Linked DNA regions of Homo sapiens: regions 2 and 3 are each linked to region 1. The links come from fine-mapping of genetic effects on gene expression. A gene starts in region 1. Each other region holds a variant in brackets. All regions are shown on one strand. Distances are from middle to middle. Region 1 holds the start of KLHL12 (kelch like family member 12). Region 2 holds the start of ADIPOR1 (adiponectin receptor 1). Region 3 overlaps ADIPOR1 (adiponectin receptor 1).

The links. PIP is the estimated chance that this variant, and not a neighbour inherited with it, causes the effect. A credible set is the group of variants that fine-mapping cannot tell apart.
Region 2: its variant is the best candidate, but not a certain one, in a credible set for the expression of KLHL12 in whole blood (TOPMed, PIP 0.74).
Region 3: its variant is the best candidate, but not a certain one, in a credible set for the expression of KLHL12 in whole blood (TOPMed, PIP 0.64).

The regions. Positions count from the first base shown.
Region 1 is chr1:202,924,407-202,929,632 of GRCh38, forward strand. It overlaps KLHL12 (kelch like family member 12), which reads right to left and starts at 2,828. Exons shown (of 12, transcript NM_021633.4): 1 at 2,683-2,828; 2 at 562-801. The coding sequence starts at 756. RefSeq lists enhancers at 2,971-3,020, 4,097-4,598, 4,599-5,098.
Region 2 is chr1:202,957,562-202,962,787 of GRCh38, forward strand. It overlaps ADIPOR1 (adiponectin receptor 1), which reads right to left and starts at 751. Exons shown (of 8, transcript NM_015999.6): 1 at 624-751. It overlaps CYB5R1 (cytochrome b5 reductase 1), which reads right to left. Exons shown (of 9, transcript NM_016243.3): 9 at 4,312-5,138. The coding sequence ends at 4,966. RefSeq lists silencers at 420-979, 1,280-1,329. The variant T/C (reference allele first, on the strand shown) is at 2,897.
Region 3 is chr1:202,944,355-202,949,580 of GRCh38, forward strand. ADIPOR1 (adiponectin receptor 1) reads right to left here. Exons shown (of 8, transcript NM_015999.6): 3 at 3,950-4,066; 4 at 2,085-2,256; 5 at 629-815. Among named protein-coding and RNA genes, the nearest start is that of ADIPOR1, 11 kb to the right of the region's middle. RefSeq lists an enhancer at 107-401. The variant C/T (reference allele first, on the strand shown) is at 3,255.

The DNA.
Region 1 (5,226 bases):
TCCTTCCTTCCTCCTTATCCCTCTGGTATTCACTTAAAAATTTTTAAACTTTAGAAGGAAAAAAGGCTGGATGCCGTGGCTCACACCTGTAATGCCAGGTGTGGCCACTCTGGGAGGCCAAGGCAGGAGGATTGCTTGAGCCCAGGAGTTCAAGACCAGCGTGGGCAACATAGTGAGACCCTGTCTCTACAAATAAATAAATAAAATTAAAAACAAAAAAAGGAGAAAAATTGGAAGACAAATTTAAGAAATAGTAAAATCCAATAGCTGACATGTGTGTTTTACTACATATTACACTATTCTAAGCACTTCCTATGTTATTTCATAAAATAATCTTCACAACAACCTTAATAACCATGTGTTACATATTACTATTATCCCTAACTTAAAGATGAGGAAACTAAGGCATAGTCATCTAAGTGGTAGATCTTATCCAGAATCTGCCAAAACATCACACTGTAAAAATTCAAAATTATATCAAACTTCCACTATTTTATTCAGTGAAATTAGACAACTAGAGTTCCACGGGTTTCATTTGTGTGGGGCTAATTTACCACTTACCTCACTAGTGAACATGGCACAGAAGTAATCACTACAGGCAGCCAGCACAATCCGATGGGCAGGGAAGTCTTTCTGCTCTACTCTCAATGTCACATCACAGAGGGTATTGCTCTTCCTGAGGGAGTTCATTGAATTGAGGATGGATTTAGCATGAGTATTTGTCATTATGTCTTTGGGGGCCATAATGCCTCCCATAAAGCAGTGCGGAGAAAGAACAAAATGGGTCCTTGGATTCTGCAACTACAAGAGGGAAAAAAAAACAATGAGCATATTCAAAGAACTAGGGCAACTGAACATATTTAATTAGCTTTACAAATTAAGAACCTAAGAGGCTTCCTCAGACCCAAACATACACAAGTTGAGGGCACTCCTATGCCTGGCATCACCACCAACCACTAGCCACTATCTAGTCCATGTAAAAGCTCTCTCTTCTTCCTCTGAATTCCTCTATCACGGAGTGTCCCTACCACTTGACATTTAATATGATCAATGCTGAAATGTAAGTAGAGATAAACAATATATGTCTTGTAAATCTTGACAAGGTTCTTGTCTCAAATGATAAACCGAAAATATAAAATTTCTTAAAGGTGTTATATTATTACTATTTAATGTCCTTAAGTAGATAAGTATTTAGAGCATACATAAAAAGAGGATCCTGCTTTATATGTATGCTTTCTATCCTAGAAGTTGCACAATAAATGTTTAGAATTTAATGTAAGAAAAAGTGTGTATTCAACTTCAACTTAGAGCAAGAAAGGCCACTCAGTAAAAATAAACTTTTTTCTAAAGAAGTATCCAAATGATATGTCTGATGACTTCCAAACATATCTGGATTTCTTCTTAAAATGAAACTTCAGGCCGGGCCCAACAGCTCACTCCTGTAATCCCAGCACTTTAGGAGGCTGAGGTGGGTGATCAGTTGAGGTCAGGAGTTTGAGAGCAGCCTGGCCAACATGGTGAAACCTAGTCTCTACTAAAAATACAAAAAATAGCCAGGCGTGGTGATGCGCGCCTATAATCCTAGCTACCAAGAAGGCTGAGGCCCGAGAATCACTTGAACCCAGGAGGTGGAGGTTGCAGTGAGCCGAGATCACACCACTGCACTCCAGCCTGGGCAACAGAGCGAGACTCTGTCTCAAAAAAAAAAAAAAAAAAAGAAACTTCAATTGAGGACCCATTACCTACACTGAATAATGGAAACCACGCAAGTTATCGATGGACTTACACTTGCTTAAGATATTGAAGCTCTTCAACAAGAGGGTATTCCTACTCTACATCTGTGAATGTCCATTACTGTTAAAGAATCGATATTGGAATCCAAAACTTTCTGAAATGATCCGGGGGGAAGGAAATCAAACTGTGGTCTCCAAAAGTCCACAAGTCACAATTAATCTTTCAACAGGAAAAATGAGATCCTAAATTCTCATCTACTTCTGTTTGTAGTTGGCATTTTACTCTATAAGCACTATAGATAATTCCTCCAACAACTCTGCAAGACCCATTTTACAGAAAAGCGGGTGATTCATCAAAGCATATGTTTTTCAAAAAGACTTAAGTCAACTTAGTTGCAACTCTAGGGGTGTAAAAAGGTCTAGAACAAATGTCCATTTACTATGAAGACAGCCCGGGGGGTCTTTTATCGTTTCCGTGTCAAAATGACAGTACCCCGGTGCAGAGTGGTCTTCCTTCTAGGGGATTCCTGCCTCAACACTCCAAGTCTCAGCATATCCTTCATCCTCACCCTTCTGAAGTGACCTATTTTCTAGAACTTTCGTTAACATCTGAATGGAGGGATTCCACTTCGGGAGATTCGGGGCAGGGAATGGGTAGTAAACTCGGGAAAGACTAAATTCTAGAGAAGGAAACGAAGTCCTTCCTCCTAATACCACCAGGCATATGGCCGCCACCGCCAGGTGGAGGTATCGGAGAGGGGCAGTTCAGGGGGAGAGTTGAGAGGGTGACCGAGGCCAGATGCCCCACCCCACTGCCAGCCTTCCTCCTCTGTTGGGCATGTCTCCCATTCCGCCTTGCAGGGAGACCAAGGATGGGGGGTAGGGCCATAACCCGGAGTTGACGGACAGGAAGGGAAGGGCTGACTGCCATCACTTCCGCGCAACTCACCTCCGCTCCCGAACCCACACAGCCGCACCGGGCCCGTCCCCAGCCTGTGGGGATGGAGTGCGGCGCGGGGCTAGCAGGCGGCTCGGGAGGAGCCGAAGCGCCGCCCAGACCCGGAGGCTCTGGAGGCTCTGGAGCCGTCCGGGTCTGGCCCCTGCGGCCGCGCGACGTGATGACGCAATGCAGCTGGAGCACCGCCCTCCCCCCGCTCCAGAGTCTGCGTCACGTGAGGAGGTGGTGTCACGTGACCTGTCTGTACCCTAGCGCGGGGCTTCTGTACGCTGCTAGGAAGCCGAATTACAAAAAGGTCGGGTGGGCAGGGAATGGTGGCTCACGCCTATAATCCCGGCACTTTGGCAGGCCGAGGCGAGCGAATTACCTGAGCTCCGGAGTTCCAGACCCGCCTGGGGATCACGGCAAAACCCCGTTTCTACAAAAAAAAAAAAAAAAAAAAAATTAGCCCGCACCGCGCCTGTAGTCCCAGCTACTCGAGAGGCTGACAGGAGGATCACTTGAGCCAGGCAGCAGAGGTTGCAGTGAGCCAGGATCGCCACTGCACTCCAGCCTGGGCCACAGAATGAGACCCTGTAAAAAAAAAAAAAAAAAAAAAATGTCCAGGCGTGGTGGCTCACGCCTGTAATCCCGGCACTTTGGGAGGCCGAGGCGGGTGTATTACTTGAGGTCAGGAGTTCGAGACCAGCCTGGCCAACATGGTGAAACCCTATCTCTACTGAAAATACAAAAAAATTAGCCGGGCGTTGTGGCACGCGCCTGTAATCCCAACTACTCAGGAGGCTAATGCAGGAGAATCGCTAGAACCTGGGAGGCGGAGGTTGCTGAGCCGAGATCGCGCCATTGCACTCCGGGCTGGGCGACCGACTGAGACTCTGTCTCTTAAAAAAAAAAAAAAAAGGCCAGGCGAGGTGGCTCACGCCTGTAATCCCAGCACTTTGGGAGGCCGAGACGGGTGGATCACGAGGTCAGGAGATCGATTCTGGCTAACACGGTGAAACCCCGTCTCCACTAAAAATACAAAAAAATTGGCTGGGCGTAGTGGCGGGCGCCAGTAGTCCCAGCTACTCGGGAAGCTGAGGCAGGAGAATGGCGTGAACCCGGGAGGCGGAGGTTGCAGTGAGCTGAGATCGCGCCACTGTACTCCAGCCTGGGCGACAGAGCAAGACTCCGTCTCAAAAAAAAAAAAAAGAAAAAAGAAAAAAAAGAAAAAACAAAAAAAAGGCTGGATGTTGTGGGGTCCGGCAGGGAGCCTGGGAATGTATCTACAGCTCGGCGATTGGCTGAGCCTGAGTTCCTCCCTACCGCTCACTAGGCAGGGCAGGCAGAGAGAATTCCAACGCTTAATATGCCAAGCATCTGATTGCAGCAAGTATGTTTTACCTTCCAGGTACTGAGGAACTTTTTGACATCGAGAAAACCCACAGAGGCCTCAAATTTATTCACGTCCATTGTCCACAATGGCCTTTTCGGGCCGAACAACGCTGCGGCGAGAATCCTCTGAGCCTTAGGATCCACAGACCTCAGTATATACTCTGCATCATAATGGGCCCTGTCATCACCACTGAATTGATTCTAAGGAAATTCTAATTGATTCAGGAAATTCTAATTTATTTTGGTGCACTTAGTGACTGAAAAGGCAAAAAGCTTAATTAGTTCAGCTTATCTGAATGTCTAGACAAATTGTGTTTGGTAATACTATTATGCTCTGTGAGCCCTTTGATTCTTTTTTTTTTTTTTTTTTTTTTTTGAGACGGACTCTTGCTCTGTCGCCGAGGCTCGAGTGCACTGGCGCGATCTCAGCTCACTGCAACCTCCGCCTCCCGGGTTCAAGCAATTCTCCTGCCTCAGCCTCTCCGAGTAGCTGGGAGTACAGGTGCACACCACCACGCCCGACTAATTTTTGTGTTTTTAATAGAGACGGTGTTTCGCCATCTTGGCCGGGCTGGTCTCGAATTCCTGACCTCGTGATCCGCCCGCCTTGGCCTCCTAAAGTGCTGGGATTACAGGCGTCAGCCACAGCGCCTAGCCCTTTGATTCTTAAGGGTACTAAAACCATAGCCAAGTGGGTAGCATTCTAAATTTACAACGTGTCCCCATCTTCCATGTCATACCTTCCTGATCTAAAACTGTCCCTGACTCACACATTGTAGAGAAGAATGCAAGATTGGTATATTATTGGGGGCATTTTGGAAATATTCGTCGATTTTAATAAAATTTTCCTTCACATATACTCGTGCACATGTAAAACGATGTATGTACAAGATTGTTAACTGCAGCATTGTTTGTAGATTAGATCAACAACAACATTAAATGTCCATTAATAGGGGACTGATTCAATAAGGTATAGTACATCCATAAAATCCAATACCATGAAGCTGTGAACAATTTATATACTCTATTATTGGTGTAAAAAGGTGGAAGATATATTCATATTTGCTTGTGTATGTGTAACATGTATTTGAAAAGACAAAGTGGTAACCTTGGTTTCTTTGGGGAAAGGAACTGTTTGGTTGTGAGACAGGGTGGGAAGGA
Region 2 (5,226 bases), 33 kb after region 1:
GGTAATGAAATTTCATTTTCCCCCAAAGTACCTTCGATTCTGCCCCGCATTTCAGCCTTCAGGATTACCTTAACCCTGCAGAGCGATCACCAACCTCCCTTCCCACCCCATCAAAGTGAGGGCACTGTCAGGACTTGACCTGCCAAAGATTGTTGGTGGAGGAACCTTAGGGCTTCCTGGCAACCCAATGCGGCTGTTCCCCGCTGAGAGGCGGTTCGCGACCTAGGCCCGCAGCCCTCCCTCCCCACGCGCGGCGGCCTCGGGGCCAGGCTTAACTCTGGCTCTCTGGTCCCGATCTGGGGAACCCATGCATCTCCACCCCGTGGGGCTAAAGGCGCAGCACTCACAGGACTGCCGGGAGTCGGGGGACAGCCGGGGACGAGCGCCCACCGCACCTAGGCCGCCTCGGAGGCGGCGCGCAGTGGGAGGGGCCGGAAATGTTTACAACCTGACCGGCTGGATGCCTGGAGGCCAGGCGGCTCCTTGGCTGGGGCCCGAGCCCCCTGGCAAGTCGGAGCGGGTTCCCCCAACAGCTGTCTCCTCCGCAGGCCTGGGTCGGGGCCCCCGGGGTCCCCGCGCTCCCGCCGAGTCCCTGCCCACCGCGCAGCCCCTGGGAGACTTACAGCCGGGCAGGCGGGCTCTGCTGGGGGCCGCGGTCCCCCGCGCTACATCCCGCGGCGCTGGAGGCGGCCTGCGGCCGAGCGGCCCCGATCTTCAGCGCCCTCCCCGCGCCGGAAGGGGCGCGCGACCTCCCGCGTCACCTCCGCAGCCGCGTCACCTCCTCGCGGGCTCTGCCTGGGCCCTCCAATCCTAGGCCCTCTCGCGGAGTCCCAATCACAGGCCCGCGCCCGCCGGCCACACCTCCCGCCCCGGGCCCCGCCCTGCTGCCCCGCCTTCCCTGCCGCCTGCCCACCTCCCCGCCGCAGCCAGGTAACCTCCACCCGCCCCGGGGTAGAGGACGTTCGTCGGATTCTACACTCCACCTCGTTATCGCAGCCTGAAGTGCGTGATGGAGAAGAAATTTCAGAGAATGAGACAGAACGTCGGGAGGGAATGCTGAATTTTCTACCATACACCTTATCTCATCTCCTCTGTCCCCAAGGCTAGTCGTTTCACCTCTGAAACACTTCTTAATCTCTTCTTCAACCGCATGGTCCTTCCTTCCCTTCCACAAACTATTTATTGAGCCCCTACCATGTGCCAGGCCCTGGGCTAGACCTCAGTCTGCCTCCTGTTATTTTCTTATCAGAGAGCAGAATTGTTTCTAACTACTCTTGCTGGTGAACCCGTGCCCCAGTTCCTGCTCCCACAGGCACCTAGAGTGCAGATCGCGAGACAACATAGGGTAGTGCAGCCCTTGTCTGAACCACACAACACAGAAGGGGATTTCAGGGTCTGGCCATTTTCTCATTTCTCCCAAGAATGAAATAGTATTATTTTATTCCCACTTTTCAGATGAGGTAACTATCATTTGGAGGGGTTCACTAATATGCTCAAGGTCACAGACTGGCCAGGGACAGAAGCTTGGCTCTATGTGACTCTAGAGCCCCATGCTCTGGAGCCCCAGATACAGCAATACACAGTTGCTGAAAAGCAGAAAAGCAATGTCAATCTTCCTCTTGTGAGCAAACCTTTAACTCACAGGATTATCATAAGGATTAAACTATCTGATGTAGATAGAGTACTTGGCACAGTACCTCAATATGGCTGTTAACTCAAAAAAATTTTTAATTTTTCTTTTTTAGGGACAGGTTCTTACTGTCACCTAGGCTGGAATGCAGTGGTGCAATCATATCATAGCTCACTGTGCAACTAGTGCCATTCTAGAGGCAGAGAAAGTGACTCATTGTAATCTGATATAGGTGCTTCAGGGACGTGGGGTTAATTCTCTTGGTCCTAGTTAAAAGCATGGGCTCTGGAGTCACATAGAGCCAAGCTTCTGTCCCAGGCCAGTCTATGATCTTGAGCACATTACTGAACCCCTCCAAATGATAATTACCTCATCTGAAAAGTGGGAATAAAATAATACTATTTCATTGGGTCTTTGTCAGGATTGAGTGAGATAATTCATGCAGGCTCTTATTATGAGGCCTAGCCAATGGTAAGTGCTTTATAAATGTTAGCTATTACCGTGTTGCCATTTGTATAAAACCCTCAGAAACTTTTCACTGTCCACAGGATTGAGTCCAGGTTTCTTCAGCATAGTGTTTCGAGGCTCTTTGCGAGCTGGCTCTAACTTCTAAGGCCTCATCATTCTCCATTTTCCCTCTGGCATGTTGGGCCTTGGTGAACTAGTTCTCTGAAGTGAACTTCTCTTTCATTCCTCCAGGCTGTTGCACATGCTGATCCTTCTGTTGGACTGCCCTTCTCATTGTCTGCTGCAAGATGCCAGCAGTTTACAATGCCCACTTCTAGGTTTGACTTTGGCCTCAGACAATCCTAAATTCACATTTAGGCTCTGTCAGCCACTGACCAGCTGTATGACCTTTGGTAAATTATTAATCTTCAGCTCACATGATTATCATAAGGATTAAATTATGTGATGTAGATCGAGTACTTAGCACAGTACTTGGTACATGGCTGTTAACTCAAAACCATTTTTGTTTGTATTTTTAGGGACAGGCTCTCAATCTGTCACCTAGGCTGGAGTACAGTGGTGTGATCATAAGATCATAGCTCACTGCAGCCTCGAACTCCTGGGCTTCACGGGATCCTCTCAACTCAGCCTCCCAAGTAGCTGGGCTACAGATTCGTGCCACCATGCCCAGTTAATTTTTTATTTTTGTAGAGATAGGGTCTCACTATGTTGCCCAGGCTGTCAAAAATGTTACCTCTCTTTCCCCCCTTCCTCCCTTTCTGAATCTTTCTCAACCTCTTCCCAGCTGCACTTTGTATG[T/C]ACCTCTGCTATGGTATTAGTCACACTGTTATAATTATTTGTCACTTGTTGGCCGGGCGCAGTGGCTCACGCCTGTAATCCCAGCACTTTGGGAGGCTGAGGCGGGCGGATCACGAGGTCAGGAGATCGAGACCATCCTGGCTAACACGGTGAAACCCCATCTCTACTAAAAATACAAAAAGTTAGCCGGGCGTGGTGGCGGGCGCCTGTAGTCCCAGCTACTCGGGAGGCTGAGGCAGGAGAATGGTGTGAACCCAGGAGGCGGAGCTTGCAGTGAGCCGAGATTGCGCCACTGTACTCCAGCCTGGGTGACGGAGCGAGCCTCCGTCTCAAAAAAAAAAAAAAAAATGTCATTTGTCTGTCTTAGACTGTGAGTTCTTTGGGGGTCTAAGACCAGTGTTGGTCACACTTTTATCCTCAGGGCCTCGCATAGTGCTTGGCACATGCCAGATCCTTAATAAACATTTGTATGTTGAGTGGATGAGACAAAAACCCATGCAAGACAAGGAATGGTGATCTTCCACGCAGGAAATTCTCTTTACAAGCCTGCTTCACTATCTGAGCCCAACGTTCCTAAGCAAGATTTTCCTTCCTGGAGGTGAGGTGGCTGAGACTGTGTTACAGAGCCCAGTGCCATACACATATTAGCTGATCAAGAAATGTTGGATGGAACACCACCAACAGAATTTACTGAAGGTTCTGCCCTGGGGAGGAGTGAATTCTGAGGGTCCCACAAATCTTTCTCTCAGAAGCCCCAGAAACAGCAATAGACAGTTGCTGAAAAGCAGAAAAGCAATGTCGACCTTCATTCTGAGCCCACCACATTGTTTTGTTGCAATGGGAGTAACAAAGAAGAATCTGGAGAGGCTGCCCTAGTCCTACCCTGGGAAAGGGAGTAGATTGGGTCATGCTACATAGCAGAGGAGAAGGGTACTCAGGACAGATGAGCCTGGGGGAGGCCAACTCTATCTGGGCATCAACAATTCCGGCCAGGGCTGGTGATGTCAGGTTACTTTTTAAAGAAGAAGGCTTCCCTTCCAAACAGAAAGACAACACTTTGATTTGTGTGCCAGGTTCCCTGAAGGATAAATATGGTGAAGGATAGGCCAAGAGAAGGAAGAAGGGGAAGAGTGGCCTATCAAGGGAACACTGTGAGGGGCAGCTGGGCTCAAAAATGTCCCCTCTAATGTGTGTTCTCCTTCCCCCACCTCGAGAGCCTCCAGGGAGAAGCGGAGCTCTGGCTCTGCTGAGACAGCTGCTGAGATGATCACTGAGTCTGCTGGCAGCTCACATTTCAGCACATGGTACAACTTCTCAAAGGTTCTTTGGAACACCTGGGAGAGTTGCATGGTGGCAAACCCTTCCTCCCTAGGTCCTCGGGGATTTGGAAACAAGGACCCCAGACACAACAACCCTTTCAATATCACACAGGGGCCTCAGCCCCATTTATTTGCACAGCCAGGGGTTCCTGCCACAAACAGCAGTTTTCGATTATCAGTAGCTGTTTCCCTCTAGCCTGGGCAGGGGCTGAGAGAGACACACACAGAAATATGATATTTCAGACTCCTTTGAGATCTGAAGAAATCATTTCCTCCTTTCTTGCCATCTCCATAAGACCACCTCTGGAAGTATGCTATGCTCAACTTATACTCACACATACAGATTTGCTCATAGGTTGAACAGTGAAGTTTAAGTAAAACCCATTGCACAGACTGTTCCTTTCATCACAGACACAAAGAAGGTGAGAGTAAGATGCTATCAAGGAACTAGCCAATCTTGGACCAAGCGTACATGCTCCCTTCCTTCTTACTCCATGGAAGAGACTGCTCCATGGGCCTCTCCTGGACCTGTTGCCACGGGGAGATTTAGGAGGCCATCCAAGGAGTGACTGAGCCTTGGCCCTCTTCCATGGCTACAGGAATATTGTTCCTGCAGGTACTATCCAGATTTCAGCTCTAGATGTAACTGAAAAAACCTGAAACTCTGAGGAAAGGAATCTAAGGCTTATAGTGCTTGAGTACTGATGGGGAACAACTGCAGCGAACAGCACCAGGGAAGCTGGAGGATGCTCAGTAGGTGAATCGCATCTTTTGTGAGTAGCCCAGTTTGTCCAAGTTGGGATGGCAGGCCAGCTGCACCATTGGGGGTGGCCCACAAAGCAGTACCAGCACATCATCCCCTGGAGCGGGCAGGTGTTCCCGGATCATGTCGGCAGTCACAAAGCCCTTGCTGTAGGCCCAATCTGAAGTATGGGGAGAAGAAAGTACTTAATACTCCAGATACATGCTGGCAAGGGGGTGTGGTGCCATGAGACTGGGGAGGGCCCTGAA
Region 3 (5,226 bases), 20 kb after region 1:
ACTCTAGCTTTTTCTATCTTAGTTGACTTTTTAAATGAGGAAAATGTACCTTCTTACTGGTGTTGTTAGAAAAAACAAAATAATACACCACTGTCGCCACCAAAACCAACAATAACAACAAAAACAAGCAAACAAATAGAACCTCAGGCTCACGGCTGGGCAAGAGAGAAAGCACACGATGATGGACATCTGGAGCTTCCAGCAATGCATGGGCAGCAAAGATAAGCTTTACTTGACTGCTGGGTAGGAGCACCAGCAGAATGAAGCATAGACTATTTACCACACCCTACTTTGGCTTGGGCTAATAGTAAGTTACGCTTGTACAAGGTCTTGGAAAGCAGCCAGTGCACTGGCACTCTAAGCCTCACAAAAGATAGTGCTTTTCAGGTAGAAAATATATTCCACAATTGGTCTCTCCATCTGTTGAAGAGGATGCAGTAAGTCTGTTCATGAAGTGTTTAAGAGAAAAGCTTCATCACCCCACTATCGCCACAGAACAGAGAGCCTTTCCTCTGGCATATCAAGAAACCTTTAGGAGTGATATGAGCTCCTATCACCCAGTAAGCACTGGGATCTCAAGATGTGACAACAGTGCACAGTATTTTCCTATGGTGTTCTTTTAACTCACTTGGAAAAAGTCCGAGAGACTTTCTCTGAATGACAATAGACGGTGTGAAAGAGCCAGGAGAAGCTGAGGCAGAGCACTGCACCCAAAAAGAACATCCCAAAAACCACCTTCTCCTGTAGAGGGGCCATGAAGTACATATTTGGTCTGAGCATGGTCAAGATTCCCAAAAAGAGAAACAGCACGAAACCTGCAGGAGGGTAAAATAAAAAAAACCTGTAAGAAAAAAGGGAATGTGTACACTTTGATGGTTGATGTTTTTGAATCAGAGAGCTACAGGCAACATCACTAATCATCAGGGAAATACAAATTAAAAGCACAATGAAATACCACCTTACTTCTGCAAGAAAGGCCATTATTAAAAAGTCAAAAAACAACAGATGTTGGCATGGATATGGTAAAAGGGGAATGCTTATACACTCCTTGTGGGAATGTAAATTATAAACTAGTATAACCTCTATGGAAAAGGGTATAGAGATTCCTTAAAGAACTAAAAGTAGAGCTACTATTTGATCCACCAATCCCACTACCAGGTGTCTACCCAAAGGAAAAGCAGTCATATGAAAAAGACACATGCACATGTATGTTTATTGTAGCACAATTCACAACTCTAAAGATATGGAACCAACCTAAGTGTCCATTGACCAATGAGTGAATAAAGGAAATGTGGTGTATGTACACCATGGAATACTACTCAGCCATAAAAAGGAATGCAATAATGTCTTTTGCAGCAACCTGGATGAAGCTGAAGGCCACTATTCTAAGTGAAGTAACTTAGGAATGAAAAATCAAATACTGTATATGTTCTCACTTATAAGTGGGAGCTAAGCTATGAGTACGCAAAGGCATATAGAATGATATAATGGACTATGGAGACTTAGAAGCGGGAGGGGGAGATAGGGGTGTGAGACAGAAAAACTACATATTGAGTACAATGTACACTACTAAGGTGATGGGTGCATTAAAATCTCAGAATTCACCAGTATATAATTCATCCATGTAACCAAACCCCCCCCCACCCCTTTGTAACCCAAGAGCTATTGAAATAAAAAAAAAATCAGAAAGCTATGAGGTTTAGCTGTGTAATTGCAGTCCAATGTTTCAAAGAAAGTGGCACTGGTCACAGAAACCCAGACAAAAAAGACCATTTTTTGAAATGTTGGCATTTTACTTTTACAGTTGGAAATTACGAAGTACAAGGAATTGTCTCCACCTAGAACAGTTCTGCCAGGGATCACAAAAAAATATCTAGTCCCAATTTCTTTGGTTTCTAGGCCTTTTACTCTCAGTCTTAAAGATCAGTGATCAAGGGTCAACCAAGGTTATTAGCTTAAAGTCATTAGTAGTTTAAAGGTAGAATCCCAGCTGCCAATCGATCTGAACAACTTTGTTGGGCTCTATAATCCCTTCGCAGTTAGGGAGACAACAAATTCCACCTTTCCCCATCCAAATCACTCACCAAGCAGATGGGTCCAGATGTTGCCAGTTTCTGTATGAATGCGGAAGATGCTCTTGAAGCAAGCCCGAAAGGAGGGCATGGGAGGTCTATGACCATGTAGCAGATAGTCGTTGTCCTTTAGCCAGTCAGGGAGCACATCATATGGGATGACCCTCCAACGTCCCTCCCAGACCTAGAACATATACACTTTCTCTGGGTAGGGCACTAGATAGTACCTTCCCCAAGGACAAGCAGTGATGGAGAACTAGTCTAAGAAGATGTCAGTCAGGCTCTGAATGGTCCTAGGTAATAGTGGAGAACCAGCCTGGACTGGGGGATATCCAAGACATAGCATGAATGGGGCTAGCAGAGTCCTGACTCATATTTTGACCATTAAAAAAAAAAAAAAAATCCTGGCTGAGTGTAGCGGCTCATGCCTGTAATCTTAGCACTTTGGGAGGCTGAGGCAGGTGGATCACCTGAGGTCAGGAGTTCAAGACCTGCCTGACTAACATGGTGAAACCCTGTCTCTACTAAAAACACAAAAAATTGGCCGGGCATGGTGGCGGGCACCTGTAATCCCAGCTACTCAGGAGGCTGAGGCAGGAGAATGGTTTGAACCTGGCGGGCGGGGGTTGCAGTGAGCCGAGATTGCACCACTGCACTCCAGCCTGGGCGACCGAGCAAGACTCTGTATTCAAAAAAAACAAAAAAACAAAAACAAACAAACAAAAAATCTCTTTGTCTTTGTTTCATGTTAGTTTATCTGGAGAAGTTTTAGGTAAGTGTTTCTCAACCTTTTAAGAAAATATGGTCCAACCAGGCTGGGCGCAGTGGTTCACGCCTGTAATCCCAGCACTTTGGGAGGCTGAGGCGGGCGGATCACCTGAGGTTGGGAGTTCGAGACTAGCCTGACCAACATGGAGAAACCCCGTCTCTACTAAAAATACAAAAATAAGCCAGGCGTGGTGGCACATGCCTGTAATCCCAGCTACTCGGGAGGCTGAGGCAGGAGAAGTGCTTGAACCTGGCAGGCAGAGGTTGCAGTGAGCTGAGATCGTGCCACTGCAGCTGGGAGACAAGAGCAAAACTCTGTCTCAAAAAAATATATATATATATATGGTACAACCTCCTTTAGGCTACTTGAAATTTCAAAATTGATATACTGAATAAAAACAAAAAAATTATAAA[C/T]GTTGTTTTAAAAAACGTACAGATCCCTCCTTTGCCCCTCTCCAGGAGATTCTATCTCATGTCTCATCCCTCCCCCAATTAGATTCTAAGTTCTTACCACATCTTTTTAGAGTAGGGGTTCTTAATCTAGGATCCATGCACTATGGACAGGATCCAGGGAATAGATGGAAAAAATTGTATTTCCATTTACCTCTAAGTAAATTGAGCATTTTCCTCAATTATAAGCATAAGCAACAAACCACAGTATTAGTAGAACTTGTGGCTTTGTCACCAATAGAAATCAGATACTCTCACACATTAGTTCTGCAGGTATCTCAAAATACTGTTTCTATTCATCATTACTTAGAAATTACAAATTTTAATAAAATACATTAGTGCTCATCATTCATGTATATTTAATGTGTTAACAAAGGCATTCATATTACTGTCATATTGAAATATTTTGATGACTTCCAAAGGCGCCCCTTGCATAGAAAAGAATCCGTTTTAAGAATATATTTTGAACAATGCCTCACAGAGTAGGCAGTAAAAATTTAGCCAGTCTTCACATTGATTTACCTCATCTTAACCAAAAAACAAATCCACTCCTTCCCAGGAATAAAAGCTCTTCGACCCAGTGCAAGCTTGCTGGCTGGGGACATCCCAGACAGGCCTGCTGCCCTTCCCCTTCCAGGACAGAAGCTCATAGGCCATACCTTGTACACAAACTCTTCCATCTTCTCCATGGCGTGGTGGGCTTGCAGGGGAAGTGTCAGTACCCGCACCTCCTCCTCTTCTTCCTGGGGCACTGGGCATGTTTGCTCTTCTTCAGCCTATGGGGGAAAAAACCCACAACAATCCAGGGAGTCATCTCATAAATTGTACTATTCCAGAGCAGAGAGACCCAGAAAAACCCAAACCTAATGCCTTCTGCCCAGCCTCTTTCCTACAGAGGGTCTTGTGGTCTCTTCTCCAAAAGCATACACACTGAGTTTACAACACTAGTTAGAAATTTATTAATACTTCGTAAATGCTGGAGTGAACATTCTATGCAGTGCGTAAAAGAAGGACTGTCACAGAGACTAGCATTGGGGGAATACACCAGCTCTAGGTACTGAATGACATCCTTTTCTTTAGGATAGTGGTTCTTAACTTTCCTCAGTTTCCCAAAGAGTTCTCTTTTCTAAGCCATTACATTTTCTTTCTTTCTTTTTTTTTTTTTGAAATGGAATATCCCTCTGTCACCCAGGCTGGAGTACAGTGGTGCGATCTCTGTTCACTGCAACCTCCGCCTCCCGGGTTCAAGCAATTCTCATGCCTCGGCCTCCAAGTAGCTGGGATTACAGGCGCCCACCACCATGCCTGACTAATTTTTGTATTTTTAGTAGAGATGGGGTTTCACCATGTTGGCCAGGCTGTTCTCAATCTCCTGACCTCACGTGATCCTCCTGCCTCGGCCTCCCAAAGTGCTGGGATTACAGGCTGAGCCACCATGCCCAGCCTACGTTTTCAAAACAACGAAAAAGACACAGAGTCTCAGAGAGTTCCATAACAATAATTCTGTTCAGAGTTCCCTGTTCACTGACTCTAGGGATGCTGTCATGATTGAAACTTTGTATCTACAGCAGCTCCCAGGAGTACCAGGGCCTCAGAACTGGTTCCATGGAAAACAGCGGTACTGACTCCAGGGCCTAAAAAAGCGCACCCAGAGGGCCGGGCGCGGTGGCTCACGCCTGTAATCCCAGCACTTTGGGAGGCCGAGGCGGGCGGATCACGAGGTCAGGAGATCGAGACCATCCTGGCTAACACGGTGAAACCCTGTCTCTACTAAAAATACAAAAAATTAGCCGGGCGAGGTGGCGGGCACCTGTAGTCCCAGCTACTCGGGAGGCTGAGGCAGGAGAATGGCATGAACCCTGGAGGGCGGAGCCTGCAGTGAGCCGAGAACGTGCCACTGCACTCCAGCCAGGGCGACAGCGAGACTCTGTCTCCA